Linked DNA regions of Homo sapiens. The protein of the gene in region 2 purifies or fractionates together with the protein of the main gene of each other region. This does not show direct contact. Each region holds a gene or a part of one and is shown on either strand. Other genes may lie near its edges. The genes, in order: PPP2R5E, CDK17, C12orf43 and PPP2R3A.

Region 1 (7,396 bases), on a different chromosome or scaffold from region 2:
GCCTTGAACTCCTGGGCTCAAGTAATCCTCCCACCTCGACCTGCCAAAGTGCTGGGATTAAAGGTGTGAGTTATTTACTGTACCTGGCCTCTTAAGAGACTATTCTTATTCTAATAGGTTTTAGCACATTCACTCGTTATAAAAATCTGGTATTATATTGCATGTGCCTACTTTACTATACACAAAGCAGATATAGACGAAAAAGGCAATCATTAAAAAGGCACGAAAACGGCCGGGCACGGTGGCTCACGCCTGTAATCCCAGCACTTTGGGAAGCCGAGGCAGGCAGATCACCTGAGGTCAGGAGTTCATGACCAGCCTGACCAACATGGAGAAACCCCATCTCTACTAAAAATACAAAATTAGCCGGGCATGGAGGCGCATGCCTGTAATCCCAGCTACTTGGGAGGCTGAGGCAGGAAAATGGCTTGAACCCGGAAGGCAGAGGCTGTGGTGAGCCGAGATCGCACCATTACACTCCAGCCTGGGCAACAAGAGCTAAACTCCGTCTAGTCATCATAGTTGTAAGAATATCTAAAAGTGAATGTACAAACTATCTGCAAAATGCCTCGGAAATGTATAATGAATTGTGAGACAAGAAATAACAATGGCGGCCGGGCGCGGTGGCTCATGCCAAGAATCCCAGCACTTTGGGAGGCCTAGGCAGGCGGACGCACCTGTGGTCAGGAGTTCGAGACCAGCCTGGCCAACATGGAGAAACCCCGTCTCTACTAAAAATATAAAAATCAGCCGGATGTGGTGGCAGACACCTGTAATCCCAGCTACTCTCCGCAGGCTGAGGCAGGAGAATCACTTGAACCTGGGAGGCAGAGGTTGCAGTGAGCCGAGATTGCGCCACTGCACTCCAGCCTGGGTGACAGAGCGAGACTCTGTCTCAGAAAAACAAACAAACAAAAGAAATAACAATGCTACTTTCACTATAATTCCATCTTCAAAGAGGCAGTATTCTTCAGAAAACGTTCACCCAAATCTAAACTTACAGAATTGCTTAAAGTCAACGCAAGGAAATGAGGCACAGGAGGCTGGGGTGAGGAGAGAACATAAATCACCCAGCCAGGTGCTACTACCACTGATTATTATTAACATAAATTTGTGTGTGTGTTTGTGTGTTTGCCTAACTGTTTAGTTTGACTGTCTTACTCAACAACTTACCTAGATAACAGTCAAGGCTTGCTTCATGTCCTGCTGTGTAAGTGTAAGGAAAGTATCCAAGTCTTGACTTTCTTTTTTTTTTTAAGACAGAGTTTATAGTGGCACAATATGAGCTCACTGCAACCTCCACCTCCCGGGGTCAAGTGATTCTCCTGCCTCAGCCTCCTGAGTAGCTGGGATTATAGATGCACACCACTACATCCACGAATTTTTGGATTTTTAGCAGAGATGGGGTTTTACCCTGTTGGCCAGGCTGGTCTCAAACTCTTGACCTCAAATGACCCGCCCCCTGTCGGCCTCCCCCAAGATTTTACTTTCTTATCAAGTAAGTAAGGCACTAAACCTCTACTAGGTTTTCCCTATCAGTGAATGAGTAAGAATCTTTTAGACTCAAAGAAAAAAATGTTTTTATTTTGAGACAAAGGTCTCACTCTGTCAGCCACACTGGACACAGTGGAACAATCACAGCTCACTGCAGCCTCAGCCTCCTGGGCTCGGGCAATCCTTCTGCCTCAGCCTCCCAAGTAGCTGGGACCACAGGTGTACACCACCACCCTGGCTAATTTTTTAAATTATTTGTACAGATGAGGTCTCACTATGTTGCGTAGGCTGGTCTCAAACTCTTGGGCTTAAGCGAGCCTCCCAACTCTGTCTCCCTATGTGCTGGGATTATAGGTGTGAGCCACCATACCCAGCCTCAAAAATGTTAAGGCTCTCCAAGAACACTTTCACAAAAGCATATAAAGATGGAGAAAATGTAAATGTCTATCTTTGCAAAGTTCATCCTATAATTTCCTAACACACAGATACGGAAAAACCAGGTAGATTTATACAGAATTACAGGTGGTGTTGCTTTCTACAGGAAATAACATCAGTGATACAGATTTCAAAACCCCACCTATTAGACATAGGGCAAAATAGGCTGGGCGCAGTGACTGACGCCTGTAATCCCAGCACTTTGGGAGGCCAAGGCAGGTGGATCACCTGAGGTCAGGAGTTTGAGACCAGCCTGGCTGGTCTCAACACGTCTCTACTAAAAATACAAAAAAATTAGCTTGGTGTGGTGGTGGGCACCTGCAATCCCAGCTACTCAGGAGCCTGAGGCAAGAGAATCACTTGAACCAAGAGGCAGAGGTTGCAGTGAGCTGAGATCGCACCACTGTACTCCAGCCTGGGCAACAAGAGCAAAACTCCATCTCAAAAAAAAAAGAAATAGGGCAAAACAAAAACTTTCCCTTCACATTATGTTGCAGTTTTGCAAGTGAACAGACTTTAAAACGCTAAGAATTAATGCAGTATTATTTATAAATCAAAGATTATGATGCATATAATAAACATTCTGATAATGCATGCACAAAACGAGTGGTTATTAATGCATATCTGAGCATTCAAAAATGACATATTAAAAGATGAGTTACATAATCACTGTTTGTATAATTATCGTATTCAAACTCCCCTGAAATTAAAGACCTTAAGGACACCTCTTTGACTTCATTATTTAAAACAACTCACAAAATTCAACCATATTTTATATTGTACTCCAAATAAAATTAACCCAATTTAGTCAAAGCAATACTATAGAAAATTAAATCAATAACTACCCTTAGCATGCATATAGTGTTTATCCTGGTTTCTCTTAAGGCAATGGCCAAAAAAAATAAAATCCTAGAAAAGAAATTCCTCCTACATTTTCTTTATATTCCATAAATTACTTCCTAGAAAATCAAGAGCAAATACACATTACTGAAGTCTATTTCTGATTATACTTCCTTATGTTATTCTACAGACAGAGATGGATTTCTAATTTATAGAATACTTTCCAGAGTATTTACCCAGAATGTGCTTACTACATAACAATCACTGTTAGTCACTCTGGAATTAGGTTTGTGAGTATATAGTCCTGTTACTCTCCAATTCTCTCATACTGGCAAAATATACAAGTTCAAAAAATCACATTCTTGGAAAGCAGAGTTCTTGGAAAACTGGCAACACTAGCAGACTTCACTTTTAAAAGTGAGAAAAAGGATACAGAAATGGCCAAAAAGCACAGGAAAAGATGCTCAACATCACTAATCATTAGGGCAATGCAAATAAAAATCACACTGAAATACCACTTCATACCTATTATAATGACTACTATCAAAAAATTAAAAAGCAGAAAATGAGTGATGGTGAGGATATAGAAAACTGGAACCCTCATGCATTGCTAATGGGAATGAAAAATGGTCCAGTTGCTGTGGCAATATGTATGGCAATTCCTGAAAAATTCAACATATGATCCAGCAATTACACGTCTGGGTACATACCCAAAAGAAATGAAAGCCAGAACTTAAACAGGTATCTGTACATCATGGTCACAGCAGCATTATTCACAATAGCCTGAAGGTGGAAGCAACCCAAGTGTCCACCAATGAATTAATGGATTAAAAAGTATATGGTATGTATATACACTGAAATTATTCAGCCTTAAAAAAGAATGAAATTCTGACACCTGCTACAACAGAGATGAACACTGAAGACACTTGACTAAGTGAAATAAGCCAGTCACAAAAAGACAAATATTGCATGGCATCACTTATAGGAGGTACCTAGAGTAGTCAAATTCATAGAAACAAAAAACAGAATGGCGGTTGCCAAGGGCTGGTGGGGGAAACAGGGAGTCAGTGTTTAACAGGTACAGAGCTTCAGTTGGGGAAGATGAAAAGGTTCTGGAGATGGATGGTAGGGACAGTTGCATGACAATGTCAAGGCACTTAATGCACATTTAAACATGGTTAAGATGGTAAATTTCATGTTATGTATATTTTACCATAATTTTTTAAAATGAGAAAAAAGACATGAAAGCATTAAAGAAAAAATACATTAAAGCATGTGTCCAAATTCTTCTCATGCATGCTTCTTTCACTACCCACAAAACCAATACCCTGACTATGAGTGGTCAGTGAAGTCCTAATTTAATTGTTTACCATAAGATCCAAGAAATTAGTGTAAGTTTTTAAATTCCTTCTAATTCTAAAAAAAAAAATTTAACTGGCTTCCTCAGAATGAAGTCCTTTACAGATACAGAAGTTAACACCCATTACATATCTACTTCAGATTAAATAGATTACTAAAAACCAGTGTCTCCCAACTTTGTATTTCAAGCATAGTTCAATCTACAGTGTTTCCTACATTTTCTTTCCAAAGCCTCATAATGACTATTTTCATTTTTACCAGCAAAATCTCTAGTCAAAATTTTCTCCCCCAAAGCTCACAGGAGCTCATCTTTACTGACTGGTAGATATATCATCTTTACAGTAATCAGTATTCAGTTTCCAAAAATTTTGTATAAACATTGGAATCTTATTTATGAATCTCTCTCTCTTTTTTAAAAAAAGTATTCATATGGAAAAAATAGAAGCTTGAAATATCCTAAGCTAAATTTTGAGGATCTTTTCCGGTTACATTCCAGTTTTTCTTATAATACCTTCTGATTTCACAAACTGTTACAGAAATAAGTCTGCAATAATGAACTAGCAAACCAGGTTGCCTGGTTTCCTCCAAGCCACACTAAAGCTCATTGTGTTGTTCATATCCCCTTTCTCCCATTCTTCAGTATTCAGCACATAAACATCCACCTCAAAGGTAAATTCTGATAGTTTCCACACTATAAAAGCTATGTTCTGATATTTTTCAAACAACACCTGTTCATAAACATGAAGCAAACATGATGAAAATTAAAAGGGACAAAAAGTAACCACATACCCAAACAAAAGTTGAAATGCCTAATTTAGAAAAAATTCTTCATATTAAAAACGTGTTGGGCCGGGCATGGTGGCTCACGCCTAAATCCTGGCATGGGAACACCATGGCAATTCGAGACCAGCCTGTGCAACATGGCAAAACTCCATCTCTACAAAAAAATGGAAAAATTAGCTGGGCGTGATGGCATGCTTCTGTAGTCCCAGCTACTCGGGAAGTTGATCCCGGCTACTCGGGAAAGGGAGGATCACTTGAGCCTAGGAAATAGAGGCCACAGTGAGCCCCAACCTGCACTTTCTTTTTTTTTTTTCCCCCGAGACAGAGTCTTGCTCTGTCACCCAGGCTAGAATGCAATGGCACGATCTGGGCTCACTTCAACCTCTGCCTCCCGGTTCAAGCAATTCTCCTGCCTCGGCTTCCCGAGTAGCTGGGATTACAGGTGCCACCACCGCGCCTAATTTTTGTATTTTTAGAAGAGACAGGGTTTCACCATGTTGGCCAGGCTGGTCTCAAACTCCTGACCTCGTGATCTGCCTGCCTCGGGCTCCCAAAGTGCTGGGATTACAGGCGTGAGCCACCACGCCCGGCCTCAACCTGCACTTTCACTCTGTCCCCACTGAACTCTAGCCAGAGTGACAGCATGAGATTGTCTCAAAAGAAAATTTAAAAAACCAAAAAACTTGTTTTTAACAAATTTCAGGCCAGGCACGGTGGCTCACACCTGTAATCCCAGCACTTTGGGAGGTCAAGGTGGGCAGATCACTTGGGGTCAGGAGTTCAAGACCAGCCTGACCAACATGGTGAAACCCTGTCTCTATTAAAAATACAAAAATTAGCTGGGCATGGTGGCGGGCACCTGTGCTCCCAGCTACTCGGGAAGCTGAGGCAGGAAAATCACTTGAACCCAGGAGGTGGAGGTTGCTGTGAACCAGCCTGAGCAACAGAGGGAGACTCTATCTCAAAAGATAAAAATTAAAATTAAAAAATTAACAAATTTCAAAGAAAAGATCATACTAAACAAGTATGATCATCATACTTGTACATAGAAAGGTATATCTTTTCTACTTGTACTATGTGAAAACAAGAGTGCATGTAAACAACTATAAATGGACCATTTTTTTCTTGATTTTTAAAAACGAATTCTTCCAAATACCATTTTCTATATGTAAATTAATGAATGGTACCATCTCCTCTACTAGGGTCTACTTCCTAAGACCATAATCTGTAGTTGTCATTGTATATAATGTATCCCTAAACGTCAACAGAAGAAAAAATGAAAAACACAAACCCAGACATCTTAAAGTTTCTCTAGTACTTAGTTTACCTACTCATCAATGTGAGATATTCTCCTGATAATGTTTCTTTTAACTTGCCCAAAGACAGACTAAATTGAGCCTTTAAAAAGGAGAGTGGGTATATTTGGTCACACATTAGTAACTTCAATGTATGTGAAGTATCCCATCCCTTCAATTTGCAACACATATAAAACTCTACAAAAAGGAAATTATATATAGATGTAGAAAGATCAATTGAAAAAGAATGCATCACCTGGTCATGAGCCTTACCTTTTAGCAGCGGCAGAGGTGTTAACTCAATAGGCTTGCCTTGAGACCTAAACTGTGAGGAACTTTGCGACCTCTTCTGTCTGGCTTTTCTGACGGACTTCCGAGAAAATCCGTCTACTTTATCCACTGATGGAGGAGTAGTTGGTGCTGAGGACATATCCCTACTGAAGAGAAAGAAGTATCATAAACCCATACATTCCCAAGGTGGAAGCATACATGTGAGTTATACAAATTCTAAAATTCCCATATACAATATTCATGAAAATGGGAATATGTGCTAAAGAAAATAAAATCAGTTAAGAAAAGTCTTATCTTGGCCAGGTGCAATGGCTCACGCCTGTAATCCCAGCACTTTGGGAGGCTGAGATGGGTGGATCACTTGAGGTCAGGAGTTCAAGACCAACCTGGACAACATGGTGAAATTCAGTCTCTACAAAATTACAAAAATTAGCCGGGCATGATGGCAGGTGCTTGTAATCTCAGCTACCCGGGAGGCTGAGGTGAAAGAATCGCTTGAACCTGGGAGGTGGAGGTTGCAGTGGGCCAGGATCCCGCCATTGCACTCCATCCAGCCTGAGTGACAGAGTGAGATTCCGTCCTTTAAAAAAAAAAAAAAAAAGGGCTGGGCCCGGTGGCTCACACCTGTAATCCCAGCACTTTGGGAGGCCGAGGTGGGTGGATCACTTGAGGTCAGGAGTTCGAGACTAGCCTGGCCAACATGGTGAAACCCTGTGTCTACTAAAAATACAAAAATTAGCCAGGCGCAGTGGCATGCACCTGTAATCTCAGCTACTCAAGAGGCTGAGAAGGGAGAACCGCTTGAACCTGGGAGGCGGAGGTTGCGGTGAGCCAAGATGGCACCACTGCACTCCAGCCTGGGCAACAGAGCAAGAGTCCATCTCAAAAAAAAAAAAAAA
Region 2 (7,396 bases):
GGTCTTGATATCCTGACCTCATAATCCGCCTGCCTCAGCCTCCCAAAGTGCTGGGATTACAAGTGTGAGACAGCGCGCCCGGCTGAAAAGAGGTATAATTTAAAACTCAATTTTTTTTTTTTTTTTGAGATGGAGTCTTGCTCTGTCGCCCAGGCTGGAGTGCAGTGTGGCGATGTCAGCTTACTGCAACCTCCACCTCCCAGGTTCGAGTGATTCTCCTCCCTTCAGGCACGTGCCAACACGCCCGGCTAATTTTTTTGTATTTTTTAGTAGAGACGGGTTTCATCATGTTGACCAGGGTGGTCTCGAACTCCTGAGCTCAGGCGATCCACCCACCTAGGCCTCCCAAAGTGCTGGGATTACAGGCATTTTAAAAAAGCCTTGGCCAGGTGCGGTGGCTCACGCCTTTAATCCCAGCACTTTGGGAGGCCTAGGTGGGTGGATCACCTGAGCTCAGGAGTTCAAGACCAGCCTGCCCAACATGGTGAAACATGGTCTCCACTAAAAATACAAAGATTAGCCAGACACAATGGCGTGCACCTGTAGTCCCAGCTGCTCAGGAGGGTGAGGCAGGAGAATCGCCTGAACCTGGGAGGTGGAGATTGCAGTTAGCAGAGATCGCACCACTGCACTCCAGCCTGGACGATGGGGTGAGACTCCATCTCAAAAAAAAAAAAAAAAAAAAGACAGAAAAGAAAAAGAAAAAAAATCCTTCAAGTTTAAAAGTAGACCATGGAACAGTTTTTATTTAATTACTGTAATTCCATTTAAAAACAAGGCTGGGTGTGGCGGCTCAAACCTGTAATCCCAACACTTTGGGTGGCCAAGGTGGGTGGATTACCTGAGCTCAGGAGTTAGAGACCAGCCTGGCCAACACTACTAAAAATACAAAAATTAGCCAGGCATGGTGGCACACGCCTATAATCCCAGCTACTCGGGAGGCTGAGACAGGAGAATTTACTGAACCCGGGAGGTGGAGGTTGTAGTGAGCTGAGATTGCACCACTGCACTCCAACCTAAACGACAGAGGGAGACTCCATCTCAAAAAAAAAAAGAAAAACAAAGCTTCTAGTCAACTGTATACATAAACTACCACAGCAGAATGAATAACATTAAATGCACTGTTTGATCCTTTGAGTACAATTCTGCACTGCAGTAAGCGCATTTAAGCCAATACTACACAGTTAAATAGCTAGATTTCATTAAGGACGATTTTGGGGCGGGGGGTTGTTTTGTTTTTGATTTTTTTTTTCTTTTTTTTTTTGAAACAGAGTCTCACTCTGTCACTCAGGTTGGAGTGCAGTGGTGTGATCTCAGCTCACTACAACTTTCACCTCCCGGGTTCAAGCAATTCTCATGCCTCAGCCTCCCAGGTAGCTGGAATTACAGGCCTGAGCCACCACGCCCGGCTAATTTTTTGTATTTTTAGTAGAGATGGGGTTTCGCCATGTTGCCCAGGCTGGTCTCGAACCCCTGACCTCAAGTGATCTGACCGCCTTGGCCTCCCAAAGTGCTGGGATTACAGGCGTGAGCCACCGCGGCAGGCCAGTTTTTTTCGGTTAAACCAAATTTTACTCCTGATACACTGACCAATATTTTTAGACCTTCAGAAATGAGTACTTTCTTTACATATTAACATTATAATTTTATATTTCCATTTTGTCTAAAAGACAACAATCTTTGAAGGCCACACCCCTTTTCTCTCCATTTTCACTAACAAGTTAGTACAGCTCACATGCAATTAAACAGTCTCAATAATGCCAAGTTACTGTCCCTCCAAGTTGGCCTACAAACTGCTCTAGATTGCTCTCACACAAATACCACCAAAACTGTATAGCTCCAATATTTGAAACCTTTTACACTTTTTATTATCTACTATATCAAAATGTATTCTTGATTGCTTCTAAGCCTACTCTGACCTTAATTTACCAACTCGGTGTTGTTCCTCCTAATTCCATCACTTTATTCAATTTAAGAGTATGATAATACGGGAAGAAATACAGAAATGAAAAAAAACACGGCCTCTCTGGAGCACAACGCCAGCCAAAAGAGGGAGAGACCTGAAAATAATTAATTACAACATAACATATTAAGTACTACAGTATACATAAATACTATATAGCAGAACCACCATAACTGTCAGAATGGAACAAAGATCACGTTGGAGAAAGAGACGTTTGGGCTTAAAAATGAGAATTTCTCTACAAGTGTCATAGCATTGTAATATCAACATACCAGTTTCTTCATCTTTGTATCCTAGCCCCTACCATAGTGTCTAGTACAGAGTAGGCAGGTACTTCAGACATGGATGGATGAATGGACGGCAGTACGGAAAAAAGGATAAAATAAGATACATATATAAACATAAAGAAAGAATATGGTTAGATTAAAATGGGACAAAACTGGAGCCAGTAAATCAGATAAGACATTCCAAAACCCTTACGTAAGAAAGTGACACAGGAAAAAATAAATTTAAAAGATATTTAGGAATTAAAATTAACAGGACTTGGTGTGACTAACTGGACTAAGGGGAAATGAGCATAACAGAAAAGCGTAAGAAAGAAGCTGCCAAAGTTTTTGGCTTACGTGACTAGGCTGACAGTGGTACCATTCACTGAAATTGGGAACAGAAATAGGGGATTCGAGTTCAGTTTAGGTAAGGGAGCACTAAGGCAATATCGAGTAGGAAGCTGGAATGCAACTCAGAAAAAGAGGTCTAGATTAGAAATAAAGAGGTGGAGATTATTGCATATGGGTGATGAGAACAAAGCCCTAAATATAGACCAGATTGCCAGGAACACATAAAACCTGGAAAGAAGGCTGTGGACAGAATACTCAGACAACCAACATTGCTGTTATCTTATATGTTACAATATTGCCACATTAAATTATATTGTTACAACACAGATAACGGCTAATACAATATTGAGGACGTAACAAATGCTTTAAAAATACCAACTGCAAACCTGAGTTAATTGAAAAATTAAATTTATTAACTCAAATTGAGACATAAAGGACCACTTCTTAAAACCAATTTAAGGCCAGGCACAGTGGCTCACACCTGTAATCCCAGCACTTTGGGAAGCTGAGGCGGGTGGATCACGAGGTCAGGAGTTCAACACCAGCCTGGCCAAGATAGTGAAACCTCATCTCTACTAAAAACTACAAAAATTAGCAGGGCATAGTGGCAGACACCTGTAATTCCACCTACTCGAGAGGCTGAGGCAGGGAGAATCGCTTGAACCCGGGAGGTGGAGGTTGCAGTGAGCCAAGATTGTGCCATTGTACTCCAGCCTGTGAGGCTCCGCCTCAAAAAAAAAAAAAAAAAAAAAAAAAGCTAATTTAATAGGTCAGACTCAAGGTGCTTAAGTCTAAGGAATCCAATTTTACTTCAGAATCAGTAAAAAATCTGGGCACAGTGGCTCACACCTGTAATTCCAGCACTTTGGGAGGCTGAGGCAGGCAGATTGCTTGAGCTCAGGAGTTCAAGAACAGCTTGGGCAATATGGCAAAACCCCATCTCTACTAAAAACACAAAACTTAGCCAAGACTGGTGGCGCTGAACCTGTAGTCCCAGCTATTTGGGAGGCTGAGGTGGGAGGATCACTGGAGCCCCAGAGATCAAGGCTACAAGAAGCAGTGATCACACCACTGCAATCAACCTGGGTGGCAGAGTGAGACCCTGTATCTTAACAAACACAAACACACACACACATACTCAATGAAAAGCTTCTTTTTCCACCAGAAATAACATTACAAGTCAATAATATAAAATACTAAAATCTAAGTTGTTATACTTCAAAAAATGTTTATTCTAAAATAATACTAAAAAACACATATTAACTAATTTAAAGAAGAGCAAGTCTAAATTTGGAGTGATAAGGGCTTCAATGCTGTTACTTGATAGTTTCTCACAAGTATAGACCAGGTGCAGTGGCTCACACCTGTAATCCCAGCACTTTGGGAGGCCAAGGCAGGCAGATCATGAGGTCAGGAGCTCAAGACCAGCCTGGCCAACATGGTGAAACCCTATCTCTACTAAAAATACAAAAATTAGCTGGACATGGTGGTGCACGCCTGTAATCCCAGCTACTCGGGAGGCTGAGGCAGGAGAATCACTTGAACCCGGGAGGCGGAGGTTGCAGTGAGCCAAGATCACGCCACTGCACTCCAGCCTGGGCAACAGAGTGAGACTCCATCTCAAAAAAAAAAAAAATTTCTCACAAGTATTTACCAACGTTGTTTACATTATTGAATATTAACACATACTAATAACAAACATTACCCATCAATTATAAGAATAGTAGATTAATATGACTTGAGAAGGCCAAAGTTAGTAACTGAACTAGAATACAATGAAAGAGAAATTATCTTTGGGTCCTTTTCCCTTGTTTACAAACATGTACACAAAATGTAGAGTATTCTTGAACATATTTACACTAACAAATGCATAAAAAGAAACAAAAATGTGTTATTAAAAGGTAGAGAAGCACGGGTACGGTGTCTCATACGTGTAATCCCAGCACTTTGGGAGACCGAGGTGCACAGATCACCTGAGGTCAGGAGTTCGAGACCAGCCTGGCCAACATGGTGAAAACCCATCTCTACTAAAAATACAAAATTTAGTTGGACGTGGAAGCTCACACCACCTGTGGTCCCAGCTACTCCGGAGGCTGAGGCACGAGAATAGCTTGAGATCACGCAACTGCAACACTGCACTCCAGCCTGGGCCAACTGAGGGAGAGACTCCGTCTCAAAAAAAAAAAAAGAAAAAAAAAAGGTAGACAAAAAATATTTATTATTTTATTTTTATTTATTATTTATTCAAAAAATCTATAATTTTTTTCCCCCGAGACAGAGTCTTGCTCTGTCGCCAGGCTAGAGTGCAATGGTGCGATCTTGGCTCACTGCAACCTCTGCCTCCCAAGTTCAAGCAATTCTCCTGCCTCAGCCTCCCGAGTAGCTGGGATTACAGGCATGCACCACCGTGCCCAGCTAATTTTTGTATTCTTAGTAGAGACCGGGTTTCACCATGTTGGCCAGGCCGGACTGGAACTCTTGACCTTGTGATCTGCCCGGCTCAGCCTCTCAAAGTGCTGGGATTACAGGCGTGAGCCACCATGCCTCGCCCATATAAATGTTTTAAATTTTTTTAGCATCTTGATTTTTAATTCATTTTGAGCAACATGTCCTACCTTACATATTTTATATACTGCAATCTTTTAATGTAGTAAAACCAGTTCAATGTACTTTAAATCGCATTTTGATGAGCTTTTCTAATATCTCACTCATTGTTTATAGAGTGCAGACAGTAACATTGACTTTTTAACATCTCATCCTCATGGAGACAGTGTAGAGTAGTGGTTTGAATGCCTAAACTGGAATGTCAATGTTACCACAGAGGTCGGTCCCTGGAAACAATGACTTAACCTAAGGTCTTTGTTTCTTCATTTGAAAACAGGCAGAATACCTATATGAAGCGCTTATTGTGAGGATTTCACAAAATAATACTTAGCATAGTGCCTAGTAGAGGAGGTAAATAATTAACGTTAATTTCTTTCACAAAGTTTATGTTATGGACTGAAGATCTGTGTACCCCCAAAATTCACATGTTGAAGTCCAAACCTCCCAGTGTGATGGCTATTAGAGGTGGACCTTTGGGAAGTAATTAGGTTTAGATTAGGTCCTAAGAGTGAGACCCTCTCATGACGGGATTTGTGCCCTTTTAAGTAGAAAAGAAAAAGACATCCTCACCTCTCCCTCCCCTCCCTCCCACTTCACCTGCAGACAGGGAGGAAAGGACTTAAGAGTGCCCAGGGAGAAGACAGCTGAGAGGGCAGGTGCTTAGCTGATTTCAGACTTCCAGCCCCGGACCTGTGAGAAAATACGTCTGTGTTTTAAGCCACCTCAATGTATGGTATTTTGTTATAGTACCCCAAGTAAAATAAGGTGATATCAAAAAATATTTTCAAAAGGAGACTTTGGAGAGCAAGATAATTTTCACCTCATCCCAATATGCCATAGATCTGTAAATCTACATCCTCAAACAGTATTCAGTATTGCAGGTTACTGCAGAACACGGTAACATTACTTATTAGATTTACTGGTAGATGTCTATTGATTTTCCATGTTGGCCAACAGGGAGAGGCAGACAGGCTGGGAACAATAAACTACACTGAGGTATATTCAATACACTTCTCTGGCCCTTGGCAATTCCTCTTGCCAGGTCAATATTTTGCAGATATCAAAAGTAACCACCAACTAACTATATTGGAAGCAAAATAATGACAAAGAATCCACTGATGACAATAAAAATTCTTAAAAGCCAGTCTAACTGGTCCTCTCCCCATCAGTTCAAAGAAATTGCCAACATTGTAGATTGAATGCTAGTGAACTACACTAGGTTCGCTATTACAGGCAGTTTTTTTAACTTCAAAAATGCTACATAAAGCACATTTTTAAATGCCATAAACCTATTGTTTATCTTCTGCATTTAAAATGCAAAATGCCATTATCACTTTATGAAATATACTTTAAATACCGATTTCCTGTTTAAAAGTTTAGGCAAAAATTATCCATTCAAAATTCAAAAGAACCTAAAACTATTCATCCTTCCCATGTATGAAAACTGAGACAATTTTTTAAACAGGTAAAATTCCCTAGAGAATATAATTTTTACAATATAGCAATAAAGTAATTATCCATCCTGAAAGTCTAAAACAAACAAAACAAACAAACAAACAAAAAATACAAAGAACATCCTGGAAATCTAAATGCCATGTAAAAGAATGCTAGCCCATGACGGTAAAATTTTCTAAAGACTAGGAAACATCAATAAAGATTCAAAATGTAATGTCTTATAAATATTCAGCATTAGTAGACAATAACAAAGAAAATCATAGGGTAAAAATTTTTGTGTTCACAGATAACTGTTATAATATTAAGGGACATCGTCATCTCCACTTTTGAATAGCTACCCCAGTTGCCATTACAGCTTCCATTGTTCAAAATAAAATAGTTGCATTGTTTTTCAGTGAAAGGAAAGAAGGAAAATATTGCTGAAAATAAGGAAAAAAACAAGCCTCAACAAAGCAACAAAATGATTTTATATGCCATCTAGTTTCGCCATAATTGTAGGACTGAACTGGTATCTGAAAACTAAATATATCAACAAACATATACGTTAAAATCTGCGCTTAGTCAACATAGCTATCCCTGTGCTACCGGGCAAATAAAATTTAAATTTTCTATTTTTTTTTTTATTAAAGCAATGACTTATTAGAGACTACTGGTATATGAAGCTGCAATACACATGGGGATCAATTCCTCCAATTTCATGTTTCCTTACTATGTATGTATCTCTTTTTGTTTTTTCATTCTGGTAACCAGAGTACAT
Region 3 (7,654 bases), about 25 Mb from region 2:
AAAGAGAAAATCCGGAGGACCAGGGGCTACTCTGGCCTGCAGCGTCTGTCCTTCCAGGTTCCTGGCAGTGAGAGGCAGCTTCTCAGCAGCAGGTGCTCCTTAGCCAAATATGGGATCTTCTCCCACACTCACATCTATCTGCTGGAGACCATCCCCTCCGAGATCCAGGTCTTCGTGAAGAATCCTGATGGTGGGAGCTACGCCTATGCCATCAACCCCAACAGCTTCATCCTGGGTCTGAAGCAGCAGATTGAAGACCAGCAGGGGCTTCCTAAAAAGCAGCAGCAGCTGGAATTCCAAGGCCAAGTCCTGCAGGACTGGTTGGGTCTGGGGATCTATGGCATCCAAGACAGTGACACTCTCATCCTCTCGAAGAAGAAAGGAGAGGCTCTGTTTCCAGCCAGTTAGTTTTCTCTGGGAGACTTCTCTGTACATTTCTGCCATGTACTCCAGAACTCATCCTGTCAATCACTCTGTCCCATTGTCTACTGGGAAGGTCCCAGGTCTTCACCAGTTTTACAATGAGTTATCCCAGGCCAGACGTGGTAGCTCACACCTGTAATCCCAGAACTTTGGGAGGCCGAGGTGGGAGGAGCGCTTGAGCCGAGGAGTTCAAGACCAGCCTGGGTATCACAGGGAGACCCCGTCTCTACAAAATAAAAAAATAATTCACTGGGTGTGGTTGTGCACATTTGTAGTCTCAGGCACTCAAGAAGCTGAGGCAGAAGAATCACTTGAGCCCAGGAGGCTGAAGCTGCAGTGAGCTGTGATCACACCGCTACACTCCTGCCCAGGCCACAGAGCAAGACCCTGTGTCTAAAAACTAAAACATAAAAATAAGTAAATCCGTTTAAAAAAAGGATTATCCCAGCCCTGCCAGGGGGAGGATGAGGAGGGGTGTGAGGACTAAATATACAAATAAATAGTGTGGTCACATGACGCACAGCAACAGAATTCGGACCCACAGCCTTCTGCAGCAATCAACCCCAAACCATCAGGACTTGGGCGATAACTGGCAGCATCTCTAACTCCCCACCCTACTCCCATCCTGCTTCCTATTTATGACCAACCCAAGAAACCCAAATAAGCTCCCCAGACCAATCACATGGTTAGCCCCACTTCTGGTGAGTGCACTTCCAGCTTCCCCATACCAACAGCCTCAATCACGGCATCCCTGAAGCCTTCCCATTTTCCTGCCTGTCTTTAAATCTCTGTCAAAAGCGAGAGATGGGTGGCTGGTTCCTTTGCTATAGCAAGTTGGGAATAAATCGCCTTTGTTAGTTCTCATTTGGGGGCTGTTTATTTCCACAGGGCCTAATGCTGTCCTAATGGTTATTGCTTGATCATTTGAGCTTCTCAACTCTAAGAAATGAGGACTGGGGAAACTGAGGCAAAAAGAGACAAAGAATGGGAGATTGAGGATGATGCAGTGTAAAAAAAAATCACCTCAACTCCTAAAACCCATACACAAACAGTACATAATAGTCAGGAAACTGTAGGAAAGTAATAGCATCTTTATTATCAAAGGACGTCATGTGATCAGGTTTACTCCAAGCAATAAAAAGTTTCCTTTTGCCCCCCTGTTTTGCCTAGTTTTCTGGTGGGCTACTCTCCTACCATAGCATAGAAAATGCACACTGCAATTGGTTATCAACAGCCTCTGGTCAATTTAGCAATCATAATCTGTGTATCTCCCACCTCTGTTTGCCTTCAGGGACAGAAAAAGTGCCTCCTTTCCAGGAGGTAGACAGGCTGTTCCAGTCCCCATCTTTGTGTCCTTCATAATGCCCAGCACAGCCCACATTGTAGGTGGTGGGAAAATTCTTGTTTAAAATAAAAAAAAGAATGAAAAATGCAATGTCTTAGTCCATCTGGGCTGCTAAAACAAAATACCATACACTGGATGGCTCATGAACAATAACCATTTATTTCTTACAGCTCTGGAGGCTGGGAAGTCCAAGTCAAGACACTGGCAGATTTGGTGTCTGGTGAGGACCTCTTCCTGATTCACAGATGGCAGCTTCTCACTAAGTCTTCACATGGTAGAAGAGGCAAAGGTGTCTCTAGGATCGCTTCTTTTTTTTTTTTTTTTTTTTTTTGAGATGGAGTCTCGCTCTGTCACCCAGGCTAGAGTGCATTGGCATGATCTCAGCTCCCTGCAACCTCTGCCTCCGAGGTTCAAGCGATTCTCCTGCCTCAGCCTCCCGAGTAGCTGGGACTACAGGCACCTACCACTGTGCCCAGCTAATTTTTTTTTTATTTTTAGTAGAGACGGGGTTTCACCATCTTGGCCAGGCTAGTCTCGAACTCCTGACCTTGTGATCCACCTGTCTTGGCCTCCCACAGTGCTGGGATTACAGTTGTGAGCCACCATGCCTGGCCTCTGGGGTCTCTTTTATGAAGGCATTGATCCAGTTCATGAGGGCTCAGGACCCATTATGTAATTGAAAGATTCTCCGTGGGGCCTGAAAGCTTAAGAGAATGAATGACCCCTCCCTCCCCTCCCTCCTTGGGCCCGGTCCCAAGGCGCAAGGCCACTCGCGCCAGCAGCATGTGTCAGCAAGATAGCAGAAGCGGGAAGAGAGCGGGCCAGAAGACACCTACCCCCTGAAGACCGAGAGAGACGTCATCCGGGTACAATGTAGCGGTTACAACAGACTGAGAAACTTCCTGTTTACAGGAGACTACAAAACCCCTGCCCCGTCCTCATTTGGTGCTGACGCCATTTTAAGCCTCAGCCCACCTGCACACACACTGCCTCATGTTGTCTGTTGGCCACGCTCTTGGGGTTCGAACCAACACAAGACCCTTTCACTAATTACTTCCCAGAGGTCCCACCTCCTAATACCATCACCTTGGGAGTAAGGACTTTTTGGAAATTATCAGTATCAAAATGGAGTCACTTATGTCAAACCCTAACAAATGCCTGTCACAAAAATTATCTCAAGAAGTTCCTAAAATCCGCAGTATTATAGATAAACCACTTGCATAAGAATATTTGCCTAACAGTGGGTGTCTCCACAATAAGCTAAAGCCAACTCCTGCAACAGGCTCCTGTGATCAACGGTACTTGTTTTAAAGAAGCTTATGTGGACTTTGTCTTTTCTCGTTGCCACAACCTCTTTTAATGTGCCTATAGTCCACTATAGCATGCATATCTCAAATTGCAATTCCTTGCAATTCTGGAATAAACGCTTTATTTTGGAGAGTCAGTCTCTCTGTTATTTATTTTATGGTGTCAATTTTAACATATGAATTTTGGAGGAACACATTCAGACCATATCAGTCACCTTCCTCTTCTTTGAAATAGAAAAAGCTCAAGGCCAGAGAGTTTATTTTAGTAAAGTTTTGACATACCTGTCTTCAAAGATAAAACATGAAACAGCATTCCACACACAAAAGTAAAGTGATTTTGTTCATCCTTCACTGTGAGGTATTTTAACCACAGAGATTCTAATTTTTTGGTCTTGGATGGGTCCTGGGAGTCAGTATTGCCTGGCTAATTTTTGTATTTTTAGTAGAGATGGGGTTTCACCATGTTGGTCAGGCTAGTCTCGAACTCCTGACCTCATGATCTGCCCGCCTCGGCCTCACAAAGTGTTGGGATTACAGATGTGAGCCACCGTGCCCGGACAGGATTCTGCATTTCTCTTTTTTTTTTTTCGAGACAGAGTCTCAGTCTGTTGCCCAGGCTGGAGTGCAGTGGCACGATCTTGGCTCACCTCAACCTCCACCTCCCAGGTTCAAGTGATTTTCCTGCCTCAGCCTCCTGAGTAGCTGGGACTACAGGTGCGTGCCACCATGCCCAGCTAATTTTTGTATTTTTAGTAGAGATGGGGTTTCACTATGTTGGCCAGGCTGGTCTCGAACTCCTGACCTTGTGATCTGCCTGCCTCAGCCCCCCAAAGTGTTGGGATTACAGGCGTGAGCCACCGTGCCCAGCCTGGATTCTGCATTTCTAACGAGCTCCCAGGTGTTACCAATGCTGCTGGCTCATGGACTACACTCTTAAGTAGTAAGGCCCTAGGCTATTAAAGGAAATACAGATTCCTGGATTCCACCTATCAGAGATTCTGATTCTGTTAGTATTTTCTGTGAGACCCAAAAGTCTGCAGTTTAACCAGCTCTCTAAGGTGTTTCTTAGGCCCAGCTGGACTGGGAAATTACTAGAATAAATGACATGGAATCAAAACCTGGGAACTAATCCTGGGTCTGTCATTAACTCCTTAGGAGATTCCCATCCCCTCTGGAGATCTGTCATCAAGAAATGATTGGAGAAGTTAATCTCTTAGGCCCTTCTAGCTCTTGCCTTTGAGAACCGCCCACCTCCCCATTCCCACCTGGTATCCCCAACCCAGTACAGTTCATGGCCAATGGCGGTCCAAGTCTTGGAACTACAATCCCCACAATGCCTCGCGCCTCTCCTCTCACGTGACGTCATGAAGGAGGCTTGATAACGGCGGTGTTCTCCACAATCCTTTGCGGTGGTTCAAGATGGCGGCGCCCAGTGGCACAGTGAGCGATTCGGAAAGTAGTAACAGCAGTAGCGATGCGGAGGAGCTGGAGCGGTGCCGCGAGGCGGCAATGCCGGCTTGGGGCTTGGAGCAACGCCCGCACGTGGCAGGGAAGCCAAGAGCCGGTAGGGTACTATGTTTGGGGAGACTGGCTGAGGGGCGTGGGATCTTCCCCTGGAGCCTGAGAGGATGGATGGTGAGGAGAGAGTCACTGGGACTCGGCTTCCTTCCCCGAGAGACCTCCAGGGACTGGGTGTAGTGCAGATTGAAAGCATGGGCAGGTGCAGTAGGGAGGGTATTTCATTATTCCAGTCGGGGAAGCTGAGGTACCCAAATGTCTTTTGATTCTGCCTCCTTGGGTCTATCCTCACTGCCCCACACTGGGAAGGCTGCCGTCTCTTCGAGATAACTGCAACAGCCCCCTCCCGGTATTCTCGCACCCAGCCTTTCCCCACCTCCAACACATTCTCCCACCCTGGAGGTTGTTGCCAAGAGCAGTGCCCAGCACATCACTCTGACCGTGACTCCCTAGTGCCCTGGGAATAAATACAGAGCCCCGCAACATCAAGGGGCCTAATCATGGATAGAACCCAAGGGTTCTTGAATTTGGAATGAAAACATGTTGCATCTTTGCTTTCTATTCATCTCTGACTGAATTTTAGCATCTCTTTCCGTCTTGCAAGCACTAAGCCACAGTAGTTCTGGCAATGCCGTTACTTTATCCCAACAGAAGTCACAGATTTTCATATCTCATTACAATCTTTGCAGATACAGATATCAATATATCATTTTATTGATAAAAAGATATTGGGGAAAAAAGTCATTTACACTCATCCCTGATTTAAAATGTGCCACTCTAATTTTTAGACCCATCTCTATATCTAAGATGTAAGAAGCACATACATCACAAGTTTGGTTGTTTACTATCATGATAATTAAATTTCGGTATCATTGGTTTTCTTTGTAATCCTGTATGTTGCATTTCATGCATTTAAAACATTGCTCTGAGAAGAGAACCGGGCTTCACCAGGCTGTTAGAGAAGGCTATGGCAAAGCAAGGTTAAGAACCGCTGGATTTGTTTAAAAGGACTTACAAGCCCTTTGGTGATCCATTGCCTTCCTCTCCCTTCCTTCCCTCCTGCCATACTGCACTTCCTGTAGGTAGCTTCCAGACCATAGTCTGCCCCTCTCACCCCCTAGTACCATAACCACAGTTTTCTCTGCAAGTTCTATTTACAGATCTGCCTTTCCATCTCATTAGCGGTGGGAACTTGAGCAAAGTACTTAAATCTCACTGTACCTAAATTTCCTCATCTGTACAGTGCGGGTAGTGATAGTACCCACCCCATAAGGTTGAGAAGTAACTGAGATAATGCAATCTACAGTGCTTGGCACATCTTAAAGGCCCAATACATGGTGGCAAATATGTGGTTGGTCTTTCCACATGGACTGCTTTCCTCCTCCTGCCTAATTCTCGCTCTTTTTTTTTTCAAAACTAGGACTCAGTCTGTTACCGAGGCTGACACAATCATGGCTCACTGCAACCTCGACCTCCCCCTACTCAGATGATCCTCCCACCTCAGCCTCCCAAGTAGCTGAGACTACAGATGTATAGTCCCAGCTACTTTTTGTATTTTTTGTAGAGATGGGGTTTTGCCATGTTGCCCAGGCTGGTCTCGAACTCCTGGGCTCAAGTGATCCTCCCTTCTCAACCTTCAAAGTGCTGAGATTACAGGTGTGAGCCACTGTGCTCGGCTTCTAGTTTTTTTTGTTTGTTTGTTTGTTTTTTGGGGTTTTTTTTTTTTTTTTGCATTTTTTTTTTTTGAGATGGAGTTTCACTCTTGTTGCCCAGGCTGCAGTGCAATGGCACGATCTCAGCTCACTGCAACCTCTGCCTCCTGGGTTCAAGTGATTCTCCTGCCTCAGCCTCCCTAGTAGCTGGGATTACAGGCGCCTGCCACCACGCCCAGCTAATTTTTTGTATTTTTAGTACAGACAGGGTTTCACCGTGTTGGCCAGGCTGGTCTCAAACTCCAGACCTCAGGCAATCCACCTGCCTCGGCCTTCCAAAGTGCTGGGATTACAGGTGTGAGCCACCGCGCCTGGTCTCTTTTTTTCTTTTTGAGACGCAGTCTCGCTCTGTTACCAAGGCTGGAGTGCAATGGCGCGATCTTGGCTCCCTGCAACCTCCGCCTCCCAAGCTCAAGCAATTCTCCTGCCTCAGCCTCCTAAGTAGCTGGGATTACAGGTGCCCACCACCAGGCCCAGCTAATTTTTTTTTATATTTTTATTAGAGACAGGGTTTCACCGTGTTGGCCAGGCTGGTCTCGAACTTATGACCTCAGGTGATCCGCCCACCTTGGCCTCCCAAAGTGCTGAGATTACAGGCATGAGCCACCACACCCAGCCTAGATTACATTCTTGAGTGCGTCTAGTAATAGCCACCAGGAGTTGAGAATTTTCTTTTTGCCCCTGTTCTAAACACTTTGTATTTGTTGTCTGTTTTCATCTTCCCAGCAATGCCACAAGAGGGTGTATTAGCCCCATTTTACAGAAAACTGATTCTCATAATGGTAAAATAACTTGGCCAAGGTTGTCCAATTTGTGAGTGGCAGAACCAGGCGTAAACCCAGGCCTACCTGACTCCCAAGTCCATGCTCTTCATTGCTGCTGTGCCACTCTGCCATGGACAAGTGTCTATTGTGGTCAAAACTCCCACCCTTTGGTCCATGACTGTGGAAATATAGGTCACTATTTTATTTATGTAACCTCTAGAGACAGCTCTTAAATCCAGTGATGAACTCGTCACTCAAACCACTTTAATTTTAGGGTAGCATCTACTTTGACTTATTTTTCTGACAATTAATTCAAACCAAGACACTATGGCAGGATCTGGGGATACAGAGGTAAAAAGAGGCAGACCACGTATTCAAGTAGCTTACAAATCCAGGAAGGGGATGGGTATGGAAACAGCGTCCACAACACTGACTCCAGAAGGTTGGTAATCGTATTCCCATTTTATAGATGAGAAAAACAAAGGCTCAGGGAGAGAAAGTGACTTGCCCGGCATCACACAGCTTGGTGGCAGAGCCAGGACTCAACTGAACTGTCTCCCTCTGTAATACTGTTTCTGTTCCCTG
Region 4 (7,396 bases), on a different chromosome or scaffold from region 2:
CATCTTTATGCTTGAATACCATCTTGGCTTGGTCTAAAATTCTTGGGTATAGAGCTTCTTTCTCTGAGGAAGTTGCAAACATTGTTTCATGGTCTTTCAGTATTCAATTTTACTGAGGCATGCTGATTTATTTATTTATTTATTTACCAGTTGTCTGGTGACTTGAATTTTTAAAACTGGAAAAAAAAAACCCAATGATAAACCTTTATTCATCCTTGAGTTCTAGTAAATTCACAATGCAAATCTGGGGTCCATCACTATTCATTATCAGTATTTCCTGGATATGGCGTGATTTCTGACCTTTCCTATTCAGGTTTTCTTTTATTTCAAAAAAGCTTTCCTATTGTCTTTTAATATACTTTACTATTTCATATATTCTTTTGTCTAAAACACATAAATAAGATCCCATTTGCTTTCCTTACCTATACCTAATTTTCTTTTGGATACTTTTTTTGTTTCTTTTCTATTACATTTTACTTGATCTTTCATAGTCTTCTTCCTCATCCCGTTTTTCCTAATTAAAGTCCAGAAGTACACATCCACAAAATGATTTTAATGCTTAATGGAACTGTACTGGGTACATGTAGTATAATTTTATTAATCTTCCCATTAGATACCTAGATTGCCTCCAAATTTTCACTATTATAAACATCCACACTTGCTGTGTGTGTGTGTGTCAGGGTCTAGCTAGCTCTGCAGGCCAGGCTGGAGTGCAATGGCATAATCTCAGCTCACTGCAGCCTCTGCCTCCCATACTCAAGTGATCCTCCCACCTCAGCCTCCTGAGTAGCTGGGACTACAGGCACACACCATCACACCTGGCTAACTTTTGTATTTTTTGTAGAGATGGGGTTTCGCCACATTGCCCAGGCTGGTCTCGAACTCCTGGGCTCAAGTGATCTGTTTGCCTCAGCCTCCCAAAGTGCTGGGATTACAGCCATGAGTGACTGCGCCTGGCCAATCCACACATATTCTTAACTGCAGCATTGTTGCTTCTTAAGATTGGTATGCTAACCCTAATTCCTAGTATGGAAGCTCAATGCCAAAAAAACCTTTAAATCATGCTTGTGAATCCATTTTCCTATATTCTGATGCAGTCAGGCTTAAGATACTGAGTGCACGATGAATGATTTTAAGGGTTTCCAGGTCACTGCCATAAAAATGAAATCCTAGTTTTGTGGCTAAGCAGGTTAAAGAAATCTCTCAGTGAAAGAAAGCTCTTTGCTGATGGCTTGTTCAGCACCCTCAAAAAAGATAATATTTAATGAATGGTAGAGGTATAAAATGGTACAATCTATATTGAGGACTATTTGACTTTATCTATGGGGCTGGATAGTTTCTGTTTATCCCTCTAGACCTGCTCTTCCTCTATCTCTATGCCTCAGGAGGCTGACCTGAATGGACCACATCAGAGACCACATTTGAGACTGTCTCAAAAAAAAAAAAAAAAAAAAAAAAGAATTCATGTATCTTTCTAAATATACATAGATAGGTGGAGAGAGAGGCTCTTTGGAAGAGTAAGCAAGAACATGATGACACTTGTTGCTTCTGGGGAGGAGAAGTGGGTAGTAGGAAACTTTTTACTATTTCTTTTGTTTCTTTGAATATTATATGAATAGTGCCTGTTCAAAAAGTACACTACATTAATGAGAAAGATTAATTGAGGCCTTTACAGAAGCTATGACTAAGGAAGAATTAGAAGAATTACAAAAGGAGTTACTAGAAGATGATGGAAAAAACCAGCAAATTATAAAGTTGCTGAAGTGATCCAAGGAGTCAAATTCTTGGATAATTAAATTTCTTAACATGGTCCCTTTATGGAATTATGCCCTGACTAGTAGAAATACATGTAGAAGTTACTTCCTGCACAAAACCATGTATAATAAAGATTTGTTCTAAACATGATCATCTTTATTATTATTGAAGGAGCTTTAGTTTTTTTTTTTTTTTTTTTTTTTTTTTTGGAGACGGAGTTTTGCTCTTGTTGCCCAAGCTGGAGTGCAATGGCATGATCTCGGCTCACTGCAACCTCTGCCTCCCGGGTAAAAGCCGATTCTCCTGCCTCAGCCTTCCAAGTAGCTGGGATTACAGGCATGCACCACCATACCCGGCTAATTTTTTTGTATTTTTAGTGGAGACAGGGTTTCTCCATGTTGGTCAGGCTGGTTTCAAACTCCCGACCTCTGGTTATCCACCCGCCTCGGCCTCCCAAAGTGCTGAGATTACAGGCGTGAGCCACCGTGCCCGGCCAGAGCTTTAGTTCTTTTAGCCTCCTCCTTTATGTACAGGGTTTATCAATATCACTAAAACAGTAGTTTGATTGTTCAGTGATCTCGGTTTCCAGTGAAAGATGAGACTCATTAAAGGAAATGGACATGAGAAGACTCTGTCAGGAAATGAGTGAAGATTGCTGGAAAAAATAATCATTTAACTAAAGTTGGCTAAATCACATTTTTATGCTATTCAAAAATGGAAAAAACAGAAAAGGATTTTGTAAGGGGGTTTTAATACTCTGGACATGCGCATTCCTGTTAAAAATTCTATAAGACATAGGGAAACTTACTCACCCTTCCTGGAATTGTGCTTGGGCAGATTCCTCTGCAACAAGCGTCTCATACTCCTCAGCGGCAAACCGGTCCCAGTCTGAGGGCTCAGGCCCATCGTTCTCAACATCCTGATTGGAAAGAAGACAGCCACGAGAAATAAAAAAAATCAAAGACAAAGAATTGGAGATAGATCATCACACAAATGTATACTGCTGAAAAAATCCTACCTGAAAAATGTTTCATTTCAACAGGTTTAAAAGAGGTGCTAAGGTAAAACTCCTAAGGTAATTTTCTACACCTCAAATGGCAAAATTATAACTGTTTAGCAGCCAGGTTTTTTAGGTATAGATTCCATTTTTTTCTTTTTTCTTTTTTTTTCTTTTTGAGATAGAATCTCACTCTGTCACCCAGGCTGGAGTATAGTGGCACGATCTCGGCTCACTGCAGCCTCTGCCTCCTGGGTTCAAGCAATTCTCCTGCCTCAGCCTCCCAAGTAGCTGGGACTACAGGCAAGTACCACCACGTCCAGCTAATTTTTGTATTTTGTAGAGACAGGGTTTCGCCATGTTGGCCAGGCTGGTCTCGAACTCCTGACCTCAGGTGATCTGCCCGCCTCAGCGTCCCAAAGTGCTGGGATTACAGGTGTGAGCCACCGTGGCTGGCTGATTCCAACTCTTTTTTTTAAAAGAGATAGGGTCTCACTCTGTTGCCTAGTCTGGAGTGCAGTGGTGCACCAATAGCTTACTGCTAACCTCAGAATCTGGGCTCAAGTGATTCTCCTGCCTCAGCCTACTGAGTAGCTGAGACTACAGGCATTCCACCTACTAAGTAGTTGAGAATGCAGGCATACCACCATGCCCTGCTAATTTTAAAATTTTTTTGTAGACACAGGGGCTCACTATGTTGCCCAGGCTGGTCTTGAACCCCTGGCCTCAAGTGATCCTCCCGTCTTAGCTTCCTAAGTAGCTGGGATTACAAGCACAAGCCATAGCACCTGGTAAGTCTACTCTTTAGCCTTGTAATCAGAGACATTTCTCTGGTCCCCTCTCCTCTGGCACTTTGCACAGCAGCCACCTGGAGTGACTTGTGGTTTGCCACAGGCCCGCCTGAAATGTACCTTCCCCAAGCCCCCATTCGCTGGCAAATTTTTGTTCTTTAAAAGCCAACTCAGATACCACGCTGTCTGTGATAGCTTCCTGGAAACAGCCCTTCTCTCCATATCACTTCCTTTTTCCTAATGTAGATACTTTGGTTGCCACCTTTTGTTCTTGTATCTCTGCCATCTCCATATATCCAGTATCTCTTCAACACAGTGCCCAGAATTTATTAAGCACTGACTAATAATGTTCTTTGTAGATCAGAACAAATATCAATAATTATACCATTTATTAAAAAAAGTAAAATTTAAAGGTAATTTTTTTAGAGTAAAAATGGTAACACAAAGAAAATAAGTGAAGAGGGAAAAGACCACACACTTTTGTGAATTTTCTTGAAATTTTATGTTTCAGATAAAATGTCTTTCCAAGCCGAACATGAGTTAGTATTGCCCTAGGGTCTAGAGTTAGTTATGCCAAGAATAATGTTAAGTTCCTAAACAATGACCACTATTAATTACTATATTTAACTCCTTTTAAGACCCCATCTCTATCCTTCTAACATTTATAAAATTGCAATGCATTATAGGCTTACAACTGGCAATGTTTGGGGTTTTGTTTTTGCTTAGAGAACTATAAAACAGGCTGGGCACAGCCAGCTCACGCCTGTAATCCCAGCACTTTGGGAGGCCTAGGTGGGCAGATCACCTAAGGTCGGGAGTTCGAGACCAGCCTGACCAATATGGAGAAACCTTGTCTGTACAAAAAATACAAAATTAGCTGGGTGTGGTGGTGCATGCCTGTAATCCCAGTTACTCAGGAGACTGAGGCAGGAGAATCACTTGAACCCGGGAGGCGGAGGTTGCGGTGAGCCGAGATCACACCATTGCACTCCAGCCTGGGCAACAAGAGCGAAACTCTGTCACACACACACACACACACACACACACAAAGAAAGAAACAAATATAAAATTATGGAGCATGTTAAATTCAATGAACCATAACAGACTTTAAGCCAGCGATAATGCAACTTGATATGCTGAGGTCAGCTGCAGAATATTTGTTTTTGGAAGGCGATAAATTCTTATTTATCTTATTTAGAAGGTGATCATATTCTTACTACTATTTAGGTCAAACAGTTATGGAACATGCAGAAGAAAAAAGAATGCAAAAGCTTCTTATAGTTTACTGTTACTCAACTGCAACAGTCTGTTCTTAACATAATTTTTACTTCTTAGAGGAATGGTAAGAACAAGGGGTGACATTGTTTTTATTTTTAACATGGATCGTATGTATAGGGTTTTCTGAGGGTCCACAGGTTTGTGTGTCTGGGGAAGGATATTCAGCTTTATTCAGATGTAGAATGCATTCAAAACTGATAGCCATGAACGGCAATCATTAACACGTGAAAAGGCGTTATATTATTTGAAGGTTTTCTATCATGGAGAACTCTAGTTTTTACCGTGATGGGGAAAGCTACTTACCATGGAATCCTGGAAATGAATGGTACAAGTGAATCAAGGCCAATATAGTTTCTAATACAGATGTGCCTATTGATATATTTTTAAAAGTTAGAAGGACAATTTTTTTTTCAAAACTACTCTTTTGTTTCCAGTGTGTGTATCAGTAGATGAGCTATAGAGTCCGCTCAGTGGAAAGTGCTTACACAGATGCAGGTTACTTAGACCTGACGATCGGCTGTGGAGAGACATGTGCTCTAGAGGTCCTTTATTGTCTCTTTTTAGTCTTTAATGAAATGTTACAAATGTTACCTCTTTACCGAAATTCCAGCATGCAGAGACCATGTTAATATGTAGCACACACAGCCCCTGACACTGCAGCCCTCAAATAAAAGTTAAAATTATACTGTTACCTTCTGGACCGCAAAGGGATCTCTCTGTTCATGGTCTAAGTATTTCTCCAGATTAAAGAAAGTGTCATAGAAGATGTGAGCCATTCTGCACCTCTTCAGATCTCTTAGAGTTATTTTGCCTACATAAAAATAAACAAATCTGGTAAATTTCATCAAGAGCTGTTTTGGCAAGAGGAAAAAACTTTCCCTGACATCTAAAAGTATAGGTATATGTTTATTATAAAAGTCCTATTTTCAGAATAAAAAAATTTAAATCTCATTTCTTTTTTCAAGGGTATCAATTTCTCAAACCCATTTCTTTTATTGAGGTAAAATTCACTAATAAAGTTCACCATTTAAACAATTTTAAAGTGCATAATTCAGTGGCTTTTAGTACACTCACAATGTTGTACAACCATTACCACTATCTAGTTCTGTAATAATATCATCACCCCAAAAGGAAACTCTGTGCCCATCAAGCAGTCCCTCCCATCTCTCCTCATGTGCTTTCTGTGTCTAAGGAAAAATCTTCTTTCATCCCCCAAACCCCGCTTTCATTTTCTTTTTAAAAAAGAGATACAGTCTCGCTGTGTTGCCTAGGCTGGAGTGCAGTGGCTACTCACAGGAACAATCATAATGCAATCCTCCCACCTCAGCATCCTTAGTAGCAGGGACTACAGGCATACACCACTGTGCCTGGTGTAAAATCCTATTTCTTAAATAGCAGACTTGCCATCAATTGCTACACTAAGCCTGGGCATGGTGACTCACGCCTGTAACCCCAGCACTTTGGGAGACCGAGGTGGGTGGATCACCTGAGGTCAGGAGTTCGAGACCAGCCTGGCCAACATGGTGAAACCCCATCTCTACTAAAAATACAAAAATTAGCTGGGCATGGTGGTGGTTGCCTGTAGTCCCAGCTACTTGGGAGGCTGAGGCAGGAGAATCACTTGAACCCAGGAGGCGGAGGTTGCAGTGAGCTGAGATCACACCATTGTACTCCAGCCTGGCAGACAAAGCGAGACTGCATCTCAAAAAAAAAAAAAAAAAAAAAAGTTGCTACACTAATAGTCAAGGAGAAACTTTAAACACTTCTGTCCTAGGAAGTCTTCTATCAAGACTCTGAAATGTTAAATAATTTAGGACAATCTAGGATTCTTTGCCCTCCTCTGATACATAGGTGAACAGTGCATCTGTCCCATTGCTTGGTCTCACCATCAACAGCTGGCTTCACTAGGTCAAGCATCTGGCACAGTAAATCATGGAATGGCAAGGGCTCAATTCCCATGGCTTCCATCCGTTCACACTGCTCCTCATAGAAGTACTCCAGCTCATACATGGAGAGTACACCGTCTCCATCCACATCCATGCAGCGGAACCAATACTCAATGCTAGATGATAAGGACAATCATTATCATGGGCCTGGTAAAGACCTTTTATTTATCCAGATTTAGTATGTTTCTTTTAAAGTAAAAGTTACATATTACATACACTTCAGGCTTAGATATAGTTTTACAAAGTTTGTTAGAGAAAATGGCGGACCCCTTCTTCCCTTTATTTTTCCACCCAGAATCAACCGTGTTCAACCCCATTTTGCTTTTTACCTTCCTATTTTCAGATAACACGTCTATATCGCTCCTTTCTTGTATTTATTTTCAGAACTATTATTAGAGGCTGGGCACGGTGGCTCATGCCTGTAATCCCAGCACTTTGGGAGACTGAGGTGGGCAGATCACTTCAGGTCAGGAGTTTGAGATCAGCCTGGCCAACATGGTGAAACCCTATCTCTACTAAAAATACAAAAAACTAGCTGCGCATGGTGGTGCATGCCTGTAATCTCAGCTACTTGGGCGGCTGAGGTGGGAGGATTGTTTGAACCTGGGAGGTGGAGGGTGCAGTGAGCC

The links.
Region 1: the proteins of CDK17 (region 2) and PPP2R5E purify together in Homo sapiens (affinity purification with mass spectrometry; 3 studies listed by BioGRID and IntAct, with this or other methods). This does not show direct contact.
Region 3: the proteins of CDK17 (region 2) and C12orf43 purify together in Homo sapiens (affinity purification with mass spectrometry; 2 studies listed by BioGRID and IntAct, with this or other methods). This does not show direct contact.
Region 4: the proteins of CDK17 (region 2) and PPP2R3A purify together in Homo sapiens (affinity purification with mass spectrometry; 3 studies listed by BioGRID and IntAct, with this or other methods). This does not show direct contact.

Annotation. Positions count from the first base shown.
Region 1 is NC_000014.9:63,533,050-63,540,445, forward strand, and holds part of PPP2R5E (serine/threonine-protein phosphatase 2A 56 kDa regulatory subunit epsilon isoform), read right to left. Parts: intron 6,645-7,396; exon of another isoform or gene 6,644-6,644; 5' UTR 6,637-6,643; coding exon 6,480-6,636; intron 1-6,479. UniProt on the Homo sapiens protein: The B regulatory subunit might modulate substrate selectivity and catalytic activity, and might also direct the localization of the catalytic enzyme to a particular subcellular compartment.
Region 2 is NC_000012.12:96,390,044-96,397,439, forward strand, and holds part of CDK17 (cyclin-dependent kinase 17), read right to left. Parts: intron 1-7,396. UniProt on the Homo sapiens protein: May play a role in terminally differentiated neurons. Has a Ser/Thr-phosphorylating activity for histone H1.
Region 3 is NC_000012.12:121,013,315-121,020,968, reverse strand, and holds the start of C12orf43 (protein CUSTOS), read left to right. Parts: upstream 1-4,481; 5' UTR 4,482-4,494; coding exon 4,495-4,639; exon of another isoform or gene 4,640-4,703; coding exon of another isoform or gene 4,704-4,710; intron 4,711-7,654. Other genes in the region: OASL (2'-5'-oligoadenylate synthase-like protein), read left to right, coding at 1-408. UniProt on the Homo sapiens protein: Plays a role in the regulation of Wnt signaling pathway during early development.
Region 4 is NC_000003.12:136,101,494-136,108,889, reverse strand, and holds part of PPP2R3A (serine/threonine-protein phosphatase 2A regulatory subunit B'' subunit alpha), read right to left. Parts: intron 6,884-7,396; coding exon 6,708-6,883; intron 5,633-6,707; coding exon 5,514-5,632; intron 2,675-5,513; coding exon 2,568-2,674; intron 1-2,567. UniProt on the Homo sapiens protein: The B regulatory subunit might modulate substrate selectivity and catalytic activity, and might also direct the localization of the catalytic enzyme to a particular subcellular compartment.